Homo sapiens: one gene and its partner. The protein of the gene in region 2 interacts with the protein of the main gene of each other region in a pairwise test. Each region holds a gene or a part of one and is shown on either strand. Other genes may lie near its edges.

The links.
Region 1: the proteins of HSD17B14 (region 2) and NEK6 interact in binary tests that used the Homo sapiens proteins (3 or more experiments, as listed by UniProt).

The regions. Positions count from the first base shown.
Region 1 is NC_000009.12:124,344,929-124,351,948, reverse strand, and holds part of NEK6 (serine/threonine-protein kinase Nek6), read right to left. Parts: exon of another isoform or gene 4,247-7,020; intron 4,241-4,246; coding exon 4,127-4,240; intron 1,113-4,126; coding exon 1,002-1,112; 3' UTR 1-1,001. UniProt on the Homo sapiens protein: Protein kinase which plays an important role in mitotic cell cycle progression. Required for chromosome segregation at metaphase-anaphase transition, robust mitotic spindle formation and cytokinesis.
Region 2 is NC_000019.10:48,833,478-48,840,984, forward strand, and holds the start of HSD17B14 (L-fucose dehydrogenase), read right to left. Parts: upstream 3,015-7,507; 5' UTR 2,935-3,014; coding exon 2,847-2,934; intron 2,367-2,846; coding exon 2,328-2,366; intron 882-2,327; coding exon 799-881; intron 1-798. Other genes in the region: PLEKHA4 (pleckstrin homology domain-containing family A member 4), read right to left, coding at 3,812-4,074, 4,540-4,652, 5,728-5,786. UniProt on the Homo sapiens protein: Catalyzes the NAD(+)-dependent oxidation of L-fucose, yielding L-fucono-1,5-lactone, which rapidly converts spontaneously to L-fucone-1,4-lactone. Can also act on D-arabinose and L-galactose, with lower catalytic efficiency. Does not use NADPH.

The sequences.
Region 1 (7,020 bases), on a different chromosome or scaffold from region 2:
TTTGTGAAGGGTGAGTGGCTACCATTTTTGGATCATCTACTTTTTGTATTAGCTAACTTGCATATTTTATTTCAAATTCTGTCTGTCAGCAATCCTGAAGGTAGATGATAGGTACTATTAATCTCATTGTACAGATGAGGAAATGAAGGCTCAGAACGGCTAAGAAACTTGCCCAAGCCCAAAGTCACGCTAGGAAGTTGCAGAACCAGAATTTGTAAAGGACAGCCCTTCGCTTTTCTATATCCCATGCTTCCTTCCCATGGAGGAAAATGCTTAACACTGATCATGAAATGAACCGCCAGCATTCAAGGAGGTGACGAAGTTCCTGGTACACAGCAGGTGTCCAGGAGAAGATGGCCCAGCCTGGCTGCCAAGAAGATGCTCCTGCTTCCCGATGCCTTTTGCCTGTGACACTCTGGCCAGGTGCAGGGCTCTCATCGTCACTCACCAAGTTATAAAACGTAGATAAAAATGTTAGCAGAATCACCACTCCACGGAAAAAAATGATTTCCACTTTATCCCTTTACAACAGAGTAAATTAAGCACACAGCTTGATTGAAAAGATACTAAGAACTAAACTGAACCCGGTACTAACCATTTTCAAAGGCTCACTACACAAATCACACGGTCTCCTGCAAGTCTCCTGTTAGCATAAGCCTTGACAGGTCACTGGAGGAATTACCCTAAAGATTCACATTACAATCCAGATACAGGGGGCTGCCGTGGCTCGCTGAACCACCTGCCCTTATTGACCCAGCTGAGATTGTCCACAACAGTATAAAGAAAGGACTTTGGAATCTGACCATCAGTGACATGTGGCCAGCGCCCCTCCCTCAGCTGCTCTGCCTTCAGCATCTGCTGTAAGGCTGGGCAGCCTTTTGGGGAACCTGCTGAACCCTGTGGTCTTAGCTGTTCTAGGCTACCAGGTGGCCACTCGAAGAGAAGACGACTCAAGTAAGGCAAAGTGGTGCTGGCTTTGATAAGGCACGGTGCATCCACGCTCAGGTGCTGGACATCCAGATGTGCATCTGCTTGGCCACCTGGTGCACGTATCCGATGTCAGGTCTCTGGTGGGGGTCAGGGCAGATGCACATGCTGACCAGTTCTCGTAACTGCAGGGGAGAGAATGGTGTGTTATTCTCAAGAAAGCAGTCTTACTGAGGCTCCGCACTCCACAGTCTGTCTGCATGAAGGCACTTCATCCTCAGAGCAACTAGATGGTCCCGTTGTCCCCGTTAGAGCTGAAGAACGGTGTTTAGCTGGGGCAAGTAAGGGGTGCGCAGCCGCATGGCTCCCAAGGGCTAGCCAGTACCCCTCCCAGGCCTGTCTAGTCCCAAAGGCTGTGCTTTGAGACCCTAAGAATGGTTAACCTCCAAATTATTTTGAACTTGTAGCTGTCCACACCATTGGGCAAATTGTGTGTGTGTGTGTGTGTGTGTGTGTGTGTCTGCTGTCAGTCACGCAGATGCCCAAACCAGAGGACAAAACTCAAGGCAAGGGCTTATTGATCATAATAAACGCATTAACATGCAGCAGGGCTGCAGTCTGCCCACCCCCGGCCCCTTTATTGTGCTCATGAAAGACGGAGCTTTTAATTATACAGACACTGAAGGCTGCTCCCGCCCCGAGGTGGGGGAGGGGCGCCTTGCGCCTCTGATCGCCTCCATTCTTCTGATAGCCGGAGTGCCAATTATTTTAATGGTAATTAAAATAATGACCTTAAAATGCCTACATCTTACCCTGCATCACGGGCTCACAGCCATTGGTTTCCATTTAAATACCTGCTGCTGGAGGGGTGGTCAGCCCCGCAGGCCACAGCAGCCGAAGCAGCAGCAGCAGCAGGAAGCTGGGTGGTCCTGAACCAGAGGGGGCTCTGGTGGTCTCAGTGGCCACACTCACTCAGGGACTGGGAAGGGCCCACGGGACGTTCTGGAGGCCCGGGGGCTACTGCTGCGCAGGCCCGTTAGGCTGAGGGATGGGGCCTGGGCTTCCTGTAGACTAGGGCTCCTCTCAGCTGATGGGGCATTTTCTCCCTGGGCCACAGAGCCTTAGGGTATCCCCTCGCACCTGCGTGCATGCCTTACAACCGAGAAGCCCAGGTGACACAGGGCCTGCAGCCTGCTAGGCCACTCCCGGAGTCTGAAGTCGCCTGTGGACAAGACAGCTGTTTTCTGAACCTTACAATATTCGGGGGAAGGTACCTGTGGTTGGCCTCTGACAGGTTAAAATACCCAAGAAAACCAGATTCAGGTGAAGTGTCTGTGACCCGAACTAATTTATGAAGTAAACGCACAGTTGTCAATAAGTGCATGTTTGAAGTTTTCAGAATTCAAGAGAAAAATAATAAAAGTGTCTTATTTTCATTTCTAAGCAGCGATATAACTTTAAAATAGGGTGTGCTGGGGGCTCCTGAGCACCACCTCTCACTCCTAAGCATGGGGCCCGGCGAGAGCCAGTGCTCCGGGGAGTGGGGGCTCGTGGCCAGGAAAGGGCTGACTTGGGACAGGGGCTTCAATGTTCATTTCAGCCTCATCACTGAAGTAGAGAGGGCGACTCCCATTTCTAGACTGACAGCCAAAGCACAGAGTTGTCACCAGCTCCAGTTGCACAGCTTCAAGCTTCTGAATCATACACAAGTCCGAATTCAGAAGATGAGAAAGGAAAAAAGCAAATGGCAACTATTAACTTTGTAAAGAGATGCAACTTGTTTTTCCTCCCACTGGGGAGGAGAAATACTTCCTCCAAAAGTGCAGGTCAGAACTTGGGAGCCAGGAGAGGAAGGGCACTGTGCAGCGCCCGACACTCGAGCTCCTCTAGCCCTGGAGTCTGCAACGCCAGCAAGCACAGGCTCAGCACAGGTGCCCTGCGAGGAGCCTCCGGCCTGGACACAAGCGCAGCACCCAGGACCTGCCCTGTGCAGTTTGGCCGGGGCAAGGGCACTCCTTCCAGAGCCTCACCCCAGCTAATTGATGGGCCACCAAAGACATGCCATCAAGAAGCACGATGGCTCCGTGGCTGCGCATGTGGGTTCAGATCCTGCCTCACCGGTCTTTTTAACTTGCCTGTGTCTGTCTGTTCCTTATTGGTAAATGGGTGAGGGGAAGATTCAACTCAGGAAGTCTGAACATGAGCTGTTATTATCGTGAGGTGACGGCCTGTGGTCCTATGGGGTGGGCCCACGGAGGCCCCAGACTCACCCACTAGCGTTGACCTTGAACAGAAATAAGGGTCACATGATATTTAGTGAACACTGACTGAGCCAGGCCCCATCCATTGGCCACTTTGGATGGTGGTGGCAGTGTTAGCCTGGTGCCTTACCTTAATCCTTATGCTGATCCTGTGTGGAAGATTTAATATTATCCCCATTGTATAGGTGAGGAAACTGAGACTCAGGGAGGTTAGGTGACTCACCTAGGAACAGTGCAGAGAGTGTGTGAACATGTATCTACACTTTTGACCCTGCTGTGCCAGGAAACCTGTCCTTTCTTCCTCACCATTATCCACCAAGGAGATTATTAGTCCCATCTTCAAGGTGACGGAGCCGAGGAATAAGATATTCACACATTCCTAGTAACTGGTACAGCCCCATGCCAGACCCATGGGAGCTGTGTCCACGGCTCCCGCAGCCAGTGTAAAATGTTGACAGTAGAAGCCCAGGGTGTTAAGTCTGTTATATAAGGAGGAAACTGACCGGTCCTCCTGCCGTAGTTTCCTGTCATGGGAGCAGAGTGGCCACCACTGGTGGTATGGGGACGCCAGGCCTGCCACATCCTGCCCCTGTATCAGTTCCCATGTCTGGCACGGCACAGACCCTGTCCTGGGGACCTGCAGCAGAGGGCCTCCCACTGGAGCACCAAGTTGGGAGCTGAACAGGTGGAGATGTGCCAAGGGCCACGTGCCACTGGTTCCTACCTGGGGGTCCCACACTGGAGCTGCGTGGTGAAACCCCTTCTTCAGTGCAATCACCTACTTTCCCCTCTCCAAGTCACTTTTCCAGAAAGCTCCCTTTCTGCACCGTGTAAAGTGAGCCTAACCTCAGCCCCACAGCTGTGGTGTTTTGGAGCGGCCCTCATAAGCCTCGGTGGCCTCCTGGGGCTGGCGAGGCCTCCGGCTCCTGCAAACTCACCTTCTCGGAGTAGTGCTCCCCGGGGAGTGGGGGGTAGTCACACTGCTCGATCTTCTGGCACAGGGAGAAGAGATTCATCTTATCTCCATAGAAGGGGCTCTGGAGGGCTGCCATCTGCAAGGGACGGGAACAACGAAGATAAGCTTTCGGCCTCAAGGCTCAGAAGGACTAGAGAGGAGGAGGCTGCTCCAGATTGTTGGGGCATGGGTTCTCTCTGGTCCCGACCGCGGCGAGTCCAGCAGGACTTCTCCCCCGAATCACCGAGCATGCTGGGGTTCAACAGAGGAGCAGGCGCAACACTACCCTGATTCTGTCACTGGATTAAGTGGGCACGAGGGTTTCGGTGACAAAACTTTCAAGGCAATAAAGAAGGGCAGCTGGACGCTGCAAGCTAATTCCCACCTTGCTCCCACCTCAGCCCGGGGGACCCAGGCTCCATGTGGCAGGTTGCCGAGTGCATGGTCTTATTTCCATAAAACGCGATTTTTCCAAGATGCCTGCAGGGGCAGGTCTCTGTGCCCCACATGTTCAGAGAGCTTTCCTTACCTATGGACTGACATTTTGGGGTGGGGTGGGCCGGAGAAGGGTGAGGCATTTCACTGTGGCTGTTCTTGCCAGCCCCTCGCAGAGCTGCTGCCTGTGGAAGCCAGCTGCCGGTATCAGGGCAGGGGGAGCAGGGGGTTCAGGAGGGAGGGAGGCAGCCTCCTGCCCCTGGATAGAGGTGCGCAGCAGCATGTTGGAGGGAACCTTCAGGGTGGGAGGGAAGCGCCTGGCTCCACAGCCAGCCCTAGCTCTGTCCCGACCCCAGCTCTGCACTCGCTGTGTCTCTGGACTTCAGTTTCCTCATTTGTAAAATGTCCCCACCCACAGGCCTGTGGCGAGGCTTGGGCTGGCACACGGAGGAGGCACCACCAGCAGGGCCAAGACCGCCTTTGATGAGGTGAGGCCTGCGGCACCGGTTCTGCCCTGAAGGCCGGCCACAGCCACGGGGGAGCGAAAGGCCTGTGGGGCGGTGGCCTCCTGTGAGTTCTCAGCTGTCAGGGTGCTGCCAGGCTGCCCCACCACTCAGGGCACTCACAGGGGACTCCTCAAGGGGGTGTGCAGGGGCCACAGTGGCCCTGAGGCGGTGGCGCAGCAGCCCAGCGTGGCACCTGCTGGCCCCATTATGAACCCATAATGGGAAAGAGCTTCTCGTCACTCCAGCTCACTGTGGCTGCCTGCCTCCCGGACCGCCCCCCGAGGCCCAATGCCTCCGGCTAGTGAAGTGCCGTCGGGCGAGTGCCCTCCTGCTGTCTGGCCCCGGTTCCCCCCCGGAGGGGCCACCCTGCTCTGGCTTCTTGGCCAAGGGCTCCTGGGCGCCTACCGAGGGGCCCTGGGATACCTGGGGAACCGTCGCTTGTCCTCGCGCCCCAGAGGCTGAGCGGGGAGGAGTCCTTGGTAGCAGGGTTTGAGGGTGCCCGTCAGCTTGGGTTTCCTGGTCTTGCCCCATTCTGTGTTCGTCCATGAACAGGTCTGGTGACCCCAAGGGCCTGCCTCCTTCAGGAGGGCGTGGAGGAGCTTCAGAGCCTGGCACCATCCTTGGGTTTGCAGATGGCCTTTGGGGAAGCTGCTGAGTGCAGCCTGGAGACTGTGGGCTTTCCTCAGCCCCAGGTTCAGCACCCTCGGGACCAGGAGCCCAGGCCAGGCCAAGTGCCTTCAGGTGGGTGTTTAGGGACAGCATCACCTCTGTCTTCCGGCTGGCTGGGAGCTTGGGCCCCTCAGAGAAGGGCTGGGAACCCATGTGGAGCCTGAAACCCACCCTTGGAGGAGGGCTGCAGGGAGGGTCTGGCCAGGCAGGGGAAGTGTGAGGATGCAGAGGCCCTGCCCATTTTGGGGTCTGCTGACCTGACCAGGAGCGGGCTGGGAGCCTGCCAAATGCACCACCCAGGTGACGCATGTCCAGGAATTAAAATGAGACTCTCGGGTGCAAAGGGTTAATCGGGCATTTTCAAAGGACATCTGTTGCCATAACAGAGAGCAGCTGAGACTCCAGGACGGTCACCTGGGGTGATCTGGGTGCCCCCGAGTTGCAGCTGGAGGATTAAGGTGGATTTTCCTGGACTGTTACTGTGCAGCGTAGAAGGGACATTTTGAGTGTTGGTCCTGTGAACGCAGGCCCTGGTTTTTCATGTGGCTGACCCCGGAGAGGAATCAGCCGATCTTCAACTTCAGATCATGCCCATTTGATCTCAATTTTATAAACCTCGCTGCTGGGAACTCCAAAGGCCCCAGAACGCTGAGGGGAGCATTGAGCCCCCAAGCTGGCATCCACTTCCCATCATGTCTCTGCTCTTTCCAGCACTTTCTCCACATCGTTTCAGAAAAGCCTTTTGAATGGGGTCAGCAGTGAGCTATGCCAGAGGACCCCTCTCGGCCTTCCCCAGGAACAGGCCTCCTCCATCCGCCCCAGCCTGCCCCCACTCTGCTGCCGGCCATGGGCCTTCCACCCTCATCAGGGCAATGGGCTGTGAAGAAAGCTCTGGGCTGCGCGGATTACAACGATTACCCTGGACGGCGAGATCTCCTTCTACCAGTGACCACCCAGACTCTGACTGGTCGAAATAGAGAGGACTCACTGTCTGGGGCCTCGTTAGAACTGCCGAGGCCACGGCTCTCAGCGCTGCTCCTCAAATGCCAAGCCCTTCTCTCTGGTGTCATCAGGGTGACATATAGCCGAGGAAAAGGGGGTGGGTGGGCCCTGGCCCCCACCAGGAGGGCTCAGAGAAGCTGGTGTGTGATCTGAGATGTCAGAGGGACAAGGGGAATCTGACTCCTGCCTGTCAGGGCCTCAGACACCCATCTTGTCACCCAGTGTCTCTCGAGCACATCCCAGACAGAAGGGTGACTGGAGGCCA
Region 2 (7,507 bases):
GGTCAGGAGTTCGAGACCAGCCTGGCCAACATGGTGAAACCCTGTCTCTACTAAAACTACAAAAATTAGCCAGACACGGTGGCTCATGCTTGTAATCCCAGCACTTTGGGAGGCTGAGGCGGGCGGATCATCTGAGGTTGGGAGTTCGAGACCAGCCTGACCAACATGGAGAAACACCGTCTCTACTAAAAATACAAAATTAGCCAGGTGTGGTGGCACATGCCTGAAATCTCAGCTACTCGGGAGGCTGAGAGAGGAGAATCACTTGAAGCTGGGAGGCAGAGGTTGCGGTGAGCCGAGATCACACCATTGCACTCCAGCCTGGGCAACAGGAGCGAAACTCTGTCTTAAAAAAAAAAAAAATTAGCCGGGCATGGTGGCGCACACCTGTAATCCCAGCTACTCGGGAGGCTGAGATAGGAGAATGGCTTGAACTCGGTAGGCTGAGGTTGCAGTGAGCCGAGATCACACCACTGCACTCCAGCCTCAGTGACACTTACAAAAAAAAGAGACAGAAAAATCAGTTCCAGTTGACCCACTTTGAGGGACTTATTCATTTCCATCCACATGTTAAATGTGCTAAGAGCCTTGGAGAGGTGTGACAGAAGGAACATGTGACCTGCCCATCAGTCACAGAAGACCTTGTGTGTGGAGTGACACTGGGTGGAAACCTTTGACGAGTCCAGCGGAGCCAGGAGAGGAAGGAAAAGTAGAGGGAAAGGCATATGCAAATGGCTGGAGGAGAACAAAGAACTGGTCATTAGCGGAGATGGGGGTAGGAACAGGAACTCGGCTTACCTTCACATCATCTTCCTGAGTCACATCACAGAGGATAAAGACAGCTCCAGGGAGCTCCTGCTCCAGGGCCCGGCCCCCAGACTCTGCAGGGAGAGAAGAGCTGGGAGCCTGGACCCCTGGGTCTCAGGGAGGAGGGGTTGGGGACTTGGACTCCTGGGTCTGAGGGAGGAGGTGCTGGGGGCCTGGACTCCTGGGTCTGAGGGAGGAGGGGCTGAGGTCTGGACTCCTGGGTCTGAGGAAGTAGGGCCTGGGGGCCTGGACTCCTGGGTCTGAGGGAGGAAGGGCTGGGAGCCTGGACTCCTGGGTCCGAGGAAGTAGGGCCTGGGGGCCTGGACTCCTGGGTCTGAGGGAGGAAGGGCTGGGAGCCTGGACTCCTGGGTCCGAGGAAGTAGGGCCTGGGGGCCTGGACTCCTGGGTCTGAGGGAGGAAGGGCTGGGAGCCTGGACTCCTGGGTCTGAGGGAGGAGGGGCTGGGAGCCTGGACTCCTGGGTCTGAGGGAGGAGGGGCTGGGAGCCTGGACTCCTGGGTCTGAGGGAGGAGGGGCTGGGGGCCTGGACTCCTGGGTCTGAGGGAGGAGGGGCTGAGGTCTGGACTCCTGGGTCCGAGGAAGTAGGGCCTGGGGGCCTGGACTCCTGGGTCTGAGGGAGGAAGGGCTGGGAGCCTGGACTCCTGGGTCTGAGGGAGGAGGGGCTGGGGGCCTGGACTCCTGGGTCTGAGGGAGGAGGGGCTGAGGTCTGGACTCCTGGGTCCGAGGAAGTAGGGCCTGGGGGCCTGGACTCCTGGGTCTGAGGGAGGAGGTGCTGGGAGCCTGGACTCCTGGGTCTGAGGGAGGAGGGGCTGGGGGCCTGGACTCCTGGGTCTGAGGGAGGAGGGGCTGAGGTCTGGACTCCTGGGTCCGAGGAAGTAGGGCCTGGGGGCCTGGACTCCTGGGTCTGAGGGAGGAGGTGCTGGGAGCCTGGACTCCTGGGTCTGAGGGAGGAGGGGCTGGGGGCCTGGACTCCTGGGTCTGAGGGAGGAGGGGATGGGGGCCTGGACTCCTGGGTCTGAGGGAGGAGGGGCTGGGAGCCTGGACTCCTGGGTCTGAGGGAGGAGGGGCTGAGGTCTGGACTCCTGGGTCTGAGAAAGTAGGGCCTGGGGGCCTGGACTCCTGGGTCTGAGGGAGGAGGTGCCAGAGCCTGGACTCCTGGGTCTGAGGGAAGAGGGGCTGGGAGCCTGGACCCCTGGGTCTGAAGGAGGAGGGGTTGGGGACTTGGATTCCTGGGTCTGAGGGAGGAGGTGCCGGAGCCTGGACTTCTGGGTCTGAGGGAGGAGGGGCTGGGGACCTGGACTCCTGGGTCTGAGGGCAGAGGGGCTGGGGGCCTGGACTCCTAGGTCTGAGGGAGGAGGGGCTGAGGTCTGGACTCCTGGGTCTGAGGAAGTAGGGCCTGGGGGCCTGGACTCCGGGGTCTGAGGGAGGAGGTGCTAGGGGTCTGGACCTCTGGGTCTGAGGGAGGAAGGGCCAAGGTGAGGGCTGAGGGACCGTCACTCACCATCCTTGTCGCAGATAACCACTCGGGCCCCGCTGTTCACTGAGAATAGGAAGGGAACAGGTTACTCTCCGAGCCTTGGTTAAAGCCTCTGCCGCCCTCTTGTGGCCACCTGGATTGGGGCTGATCTCCCTCTCCCCTCGTGACCCCAGTCTCATGATCACCCATAGGACAGAGGGCAGACGCCTTGACACATACTCTCCTTGCCTTGTTTCTGCTGAGGCTCCTGAACCCCCGTTCGTGGCTTCCGGAGCAAACTCCACGACTGACAGAGCCATTCCTCAAACCACTGGTTTTGTAGCTACACCAACAGACCCAGAGAAAGGGGCCACTGCCTTCGGAGACCCTGCCAGACTCAGCCCTAGCCTACAGCGCCACACGCTTACTTTAGCCTGCAAATTGGCTTTTATAATATCAGAATCCTGGCTGCAGTACTGGAGTCCCTATTTTCCGCCCCCATCACCCCGCCCCCATCCTTCCTTTCTCACACTCCACAGCTCCCAGCAGTCAGACCCGGCTCACCGAAGGCGCGCACGATCCCAGCTCCGATGCCGCGCCCGCCCCCGGTCACGACCACCACCTTCCCGGCATAGCGCGTTCCCGTAGCCATCCCGTGTACGTCGGTCTCTCTCTCTCTCTACTCTGGGCCTCTTTCACCTCCAAAGCCCCGTGAGGCCGTCGCATCAAATCCTCAATAGAGGCTGGATCCTGGAAGTCCGGCCTCGGGGGGCGTTGCCAGGAAGGCTAGAGACCTGGAAGTTTGTCCCCAGCCCCTCCTCCCTCAGACACTCCTCTCTTCCCACAGACCCAGGAATCCAGGAGCCCCAGTCCCTCCTCCCACAGACCCAGGAATCCAGAAGCCTCAGTCCCTCCTCCCTCAGACTCGGGAGTCCAGGCCCCCAGCCCCTCCTCCCTCAGACTCGGGAGTCCAGCCTCCCAGCCCCTCCTCCCTCAGACCCGGGAGTCCAGCCTCCCAGCCCCTCCTCCCTCAGACCCAGGAGTCAGGGTCCCAGCCCCTCCTCCCTCAGACCCGGGAGTCCAGCCTCCCAGTCCCTCCTCCCTCAGACCCAGGAGTCAGGGTCCCACCCCTTCCTCCCTCAGACCCGGGAATCCTGGCCCAGCCCCCTCCACTCTCAGACCGAGGGATCAGGTTCTCTATCCCTTCTTCCCAGAGACCTATAAGTCCAAGCCCCCTGTCCCTTCCTCTCTCAGGACCCAGGAGTCCACGACTCCAGCTCTGCCCCTCAGAGACACCAGTGCCACAACCCCAGACAGACAGAAAGAAAGCTATTGACTAAAAGTTCAAAGTTTTAATCCAAATTTAGACAGTGTTGAGAAAACCAAACTTTGGCCATAGAAACCATTCCCCTCCCGGGCCCGCAATGGGGACCAGACCACGCCCCCTGATGCCCTGAGTGGTCCCAGATCTCCGGCGGTACCTCCAGACCACGTCCTCGCGCTCCGATTGGCTGCCGCTTTTGGGCGGATTAGAAGCTGGATTGTAGCAGAGTGACTCGCAGAGGCCATGCCCCCTCGTCTTGTGGCAGGACCGGAGGGGCGATCCCGGCATCCCACGCGGGCCCCCAGGGGGTGGGACCTCCTCCACGCCCACTCCCTCGGCGAGAGAACCCCGTGGAACCCGAATTAGCCACCGGGGGAGATCTGGGGGGAGGGGTCTCCTGGCGCGTGGGGTCCGAAGGAGGCAGCGGCACACCGGGAAGAGGGTCTCCCTGGGAGTCCAAATTTCCACCTGGAGAGGATGAGTGGGACATGAGAATGGCAAACCTCAGCGCTAGGACCCCGGATTCCCAGCCCCTCCTCCCTCAGACCCAGGACTCCGGATTCCCAGCCCCTCCTCCATCAGACCCAGGAGTCCAGGCCCCCAGCCCCTCCTCCCTCAGACCCAGGAGTCCAGGCCCCCAGCCCCTCCTCCCTCAGATCCAGGAGTCTGGATACGCCAGTCCAGTCCTCTTTGAGACTCAGTTGTCGGCCCTCTCCCCGCCCCCTGACCTCTTCCTCCCCTCCTCCCAAGTGTCCCGGACCCCAGTCACCTCTTGCCTGAGACCTAAAACTCCCAAACCCTGCCCAACTCTTTACTCACCAAGATAAAAAATTCTCACCGGCCCCCAGACCCCTCCTCTCCAGGACCTGGGATTCCAGGTCTCCAGCTCTCTCCTCCCTAAAACCCAGAAGTCCAACATCCCCAGCCAGTCACCTGTCATCATTCTGTGCCACTGCGACGCCTCAGTAGCCAGGGCTTGGGAGAGGCTGAGAACCCGCTCCCGGTGACCTTCGGAAGTCGGCAAGTAAGGGGTGGTGTTCCTTGGACTAGAAAAAAAAAGAAGATTGGGGGTGGGGGTGTGTACATGGGGGAGAGGTGGGGGATGGTTAATTGGTACAAAAAGAAAAGGATGAATAAGACCTACTATTAGATAGCACAACAGAATGACTATAGTCAATAATAATTTAATTGTACATTTTTAAATAAATTAAAGGGTGTAACTAGATTGTTTATACATCAAAGGGTAAATCCTTGAAAGGGGATGGATACCCTATTCCCGATGATGTGCTTATTTCACATTGCCTGCCTGTATCAAAACATCTCAATTATCTCGTAAATATATGTATACCTAGTATGTACCAACAAAAATTAAAAATTAAAAAAAAAAAAAAAAAAGCAGGCCAGGTGCGACAGCTTATCCCTGTAATCCCAGCACCTTGGGAGGCCGAGGCGGGCGGATCACTTGAGGTCAGGAGTTCGAGACCACCCTGGCCAACATGGTGAAACCCAGTCTCTACCAAAAAATACAAAAAAGTTAGCCAGGCATGGTGGTGGGTGCCTGTAATTCCAGCTACTAGGGAGGCTGAGGAAGGAGAATCATTTGAACCCAGAAGGCGGAGGTTGCAGTGAACTGAGATCACGCCATTGCACTCCAGCCTGGGAGACAGAGCAAGACTCCGTCTCAAAAAAAAAAAAAAAGTAAAAAATAAAAATAAAAATAAAAAATAAACAGCTGGCACAGTGGGGACCCGGGTACCGCACGTGCCTTTCTGGGAGTTGTAGTTCCTAGCACGTGTCTCTAAAATACGTTAAACATGGCACCGCCCTCATACCGCCCACATGCATTACGGGATTTGTAGTCCACTCGCGCGTCACTATCACCCAATTTCCTTGATGCAGAAGTAGGATCTGCTATTGACCAAGGGAATTTGAGGAACTAAAGATATCACTACGGATCTAGGGCTTTCTGGTTTTGTTGCAGATGCCCCGGGAACTTAAGCATCTCTAGAAGGGTTGCGATTTGTACTTCCATATTCAGGAGACTTTAATAATAATGCTACTCCCCTTTGCTTTTGCAAATTTTTTTTTCCTGCTCCCTTGATACGCCCTCCAGTTCCTTACCTACTCCAGGACCCAGAGCTTCTGAGCCATTTCTGGGCTCCCGAGTGTCCTACGACAGGCTGGAAAGGAATTGGGGCATTAGAACTCCTCACCTGGAAGCCCCACGTTCTCATTTTGAGGGTGAAGTGAAGGGGGCTCCAAAAGAGAATGAAATTGCCCAAAAACACTGGCAATGTTTTGTTTTGTTTTTCCTATGCTTCTGTAGGCACTGAATTTTTAAAAATTAATTTATTTTATTTATTCATTTTTTAGAAAGGATGGAGTACAGTGGTGTGATCATAACTCACTGTAGTCTCGACTTCCCAGGCTTGGACTAATCCTGCTTCAGCCTCCTGAGTAAATAGAACTACAGGCTCGCACCACCATGCCTGGCTAATTATTTTTATTTTTATTTTTAGTAGAGACAGAGTCTTGCTATGTTGCCCAGGCTGGTCTCTTACTCCTGCCTCGGCCTCCCAAAGTACTGGTATTACAGGGGTGAGCCATAGCACCCAGTGACTGACAATGTTTAACTTTACCTGTGTTCCTATAAAGCAGCACATGAGTTCAGAAATCCCACCTCCACCACCACCACCTGTGACTTGTCTAAATCCTTTCTATAAAAGTCTAAGGGGCCGGGTCTGGTGGCTCACACCTGTAATCCCAGCACTTTGGGAGGCCGAGGTGAGCAGATCACTTGAGGTCAGGAGTTTAAGAACAGCCTGGTCAATATGGTGTAAACCCCGTCTCTACTAAAAATACAAAAAAAAAAAAATTAGCAGGGTGTGGTGGCATGGGCCTGTAATCCCAGCCACTTGGGAGGCTAAGGCAGGAGAATCGTTTGAACCTGGGAGACAGGGGTCGCAGTGAGTCGAGATTCCACCACTATACTCCATCATGGGCAACAAAGGGAGACTCTGTCTCAAAAAAAGAAAAAAAAAATCTAAGGGGAGGTTAGGTGCAGTAGCTCACACCTATATTCTTAGCACCTCCTTCCAAGGCAGGAGGATCACTTGAGCTCAGGAGCTCGACACCAGCCTGGCCAACGTGGTAAAAATCTGTCTCTACTAAAAATACAAAAATTGGCTGGATGTAGTGGCATATCCCTGTAGTCCTAGCTACTCGGGAGGCTGAGGCATGAAAATCACTTGAACCCAGGAGGTGGAGGTTGCAGTGAGTGGAGATCGCACCACTGCACTCTAGCCTGGGCGACCTTGTCCCTGAAAAAAAAAGAAAACATCTTTTTTTTTTTTTTTTTTGAGACAGAGTTTCACTCTTGTTGCTCAAGCTGGAGTGCAATGGCAAAATCTTAGCTCACCACAACCTCCACCTCCTGGGTTCAAGCGATTCTCCTGCCTCAGCCTCCCAAGGAGCTGGGATTACAGACATGTGCTACCATGCCCAGCTAATTTTCTATTTTTAGTAGAGACGGGGTTTCTCCATGTTGGTCAGGCTGGTCTTGAACTCCCGACCTCAGGTGATCCGCCCTCCTTGGCCTCCCAAATTGCTGGGATTACAGGCGTGAGCCACCATGCCCGGCCGAAAAAGGAAAACGTCTAAGGGGAAACCATCCTGAGATATCTGAGACACTCTGATGTTCAGATCTGGGACGTTCTTCCTATTGAAAGGGCATGAATAAAATCAATTTTCTTCCTGGCTTACATTTTCTTTTTTGCTTTCTTGCTATTGACAACACATAGCAACTGAGAAGAAAAACTAGGCTTCCAATCCAGATGTGTGACCCCCGCCCCCACCCACTGTCCTCCCCTCACTGCCACTCCTGTCCACCCACCACTATCCA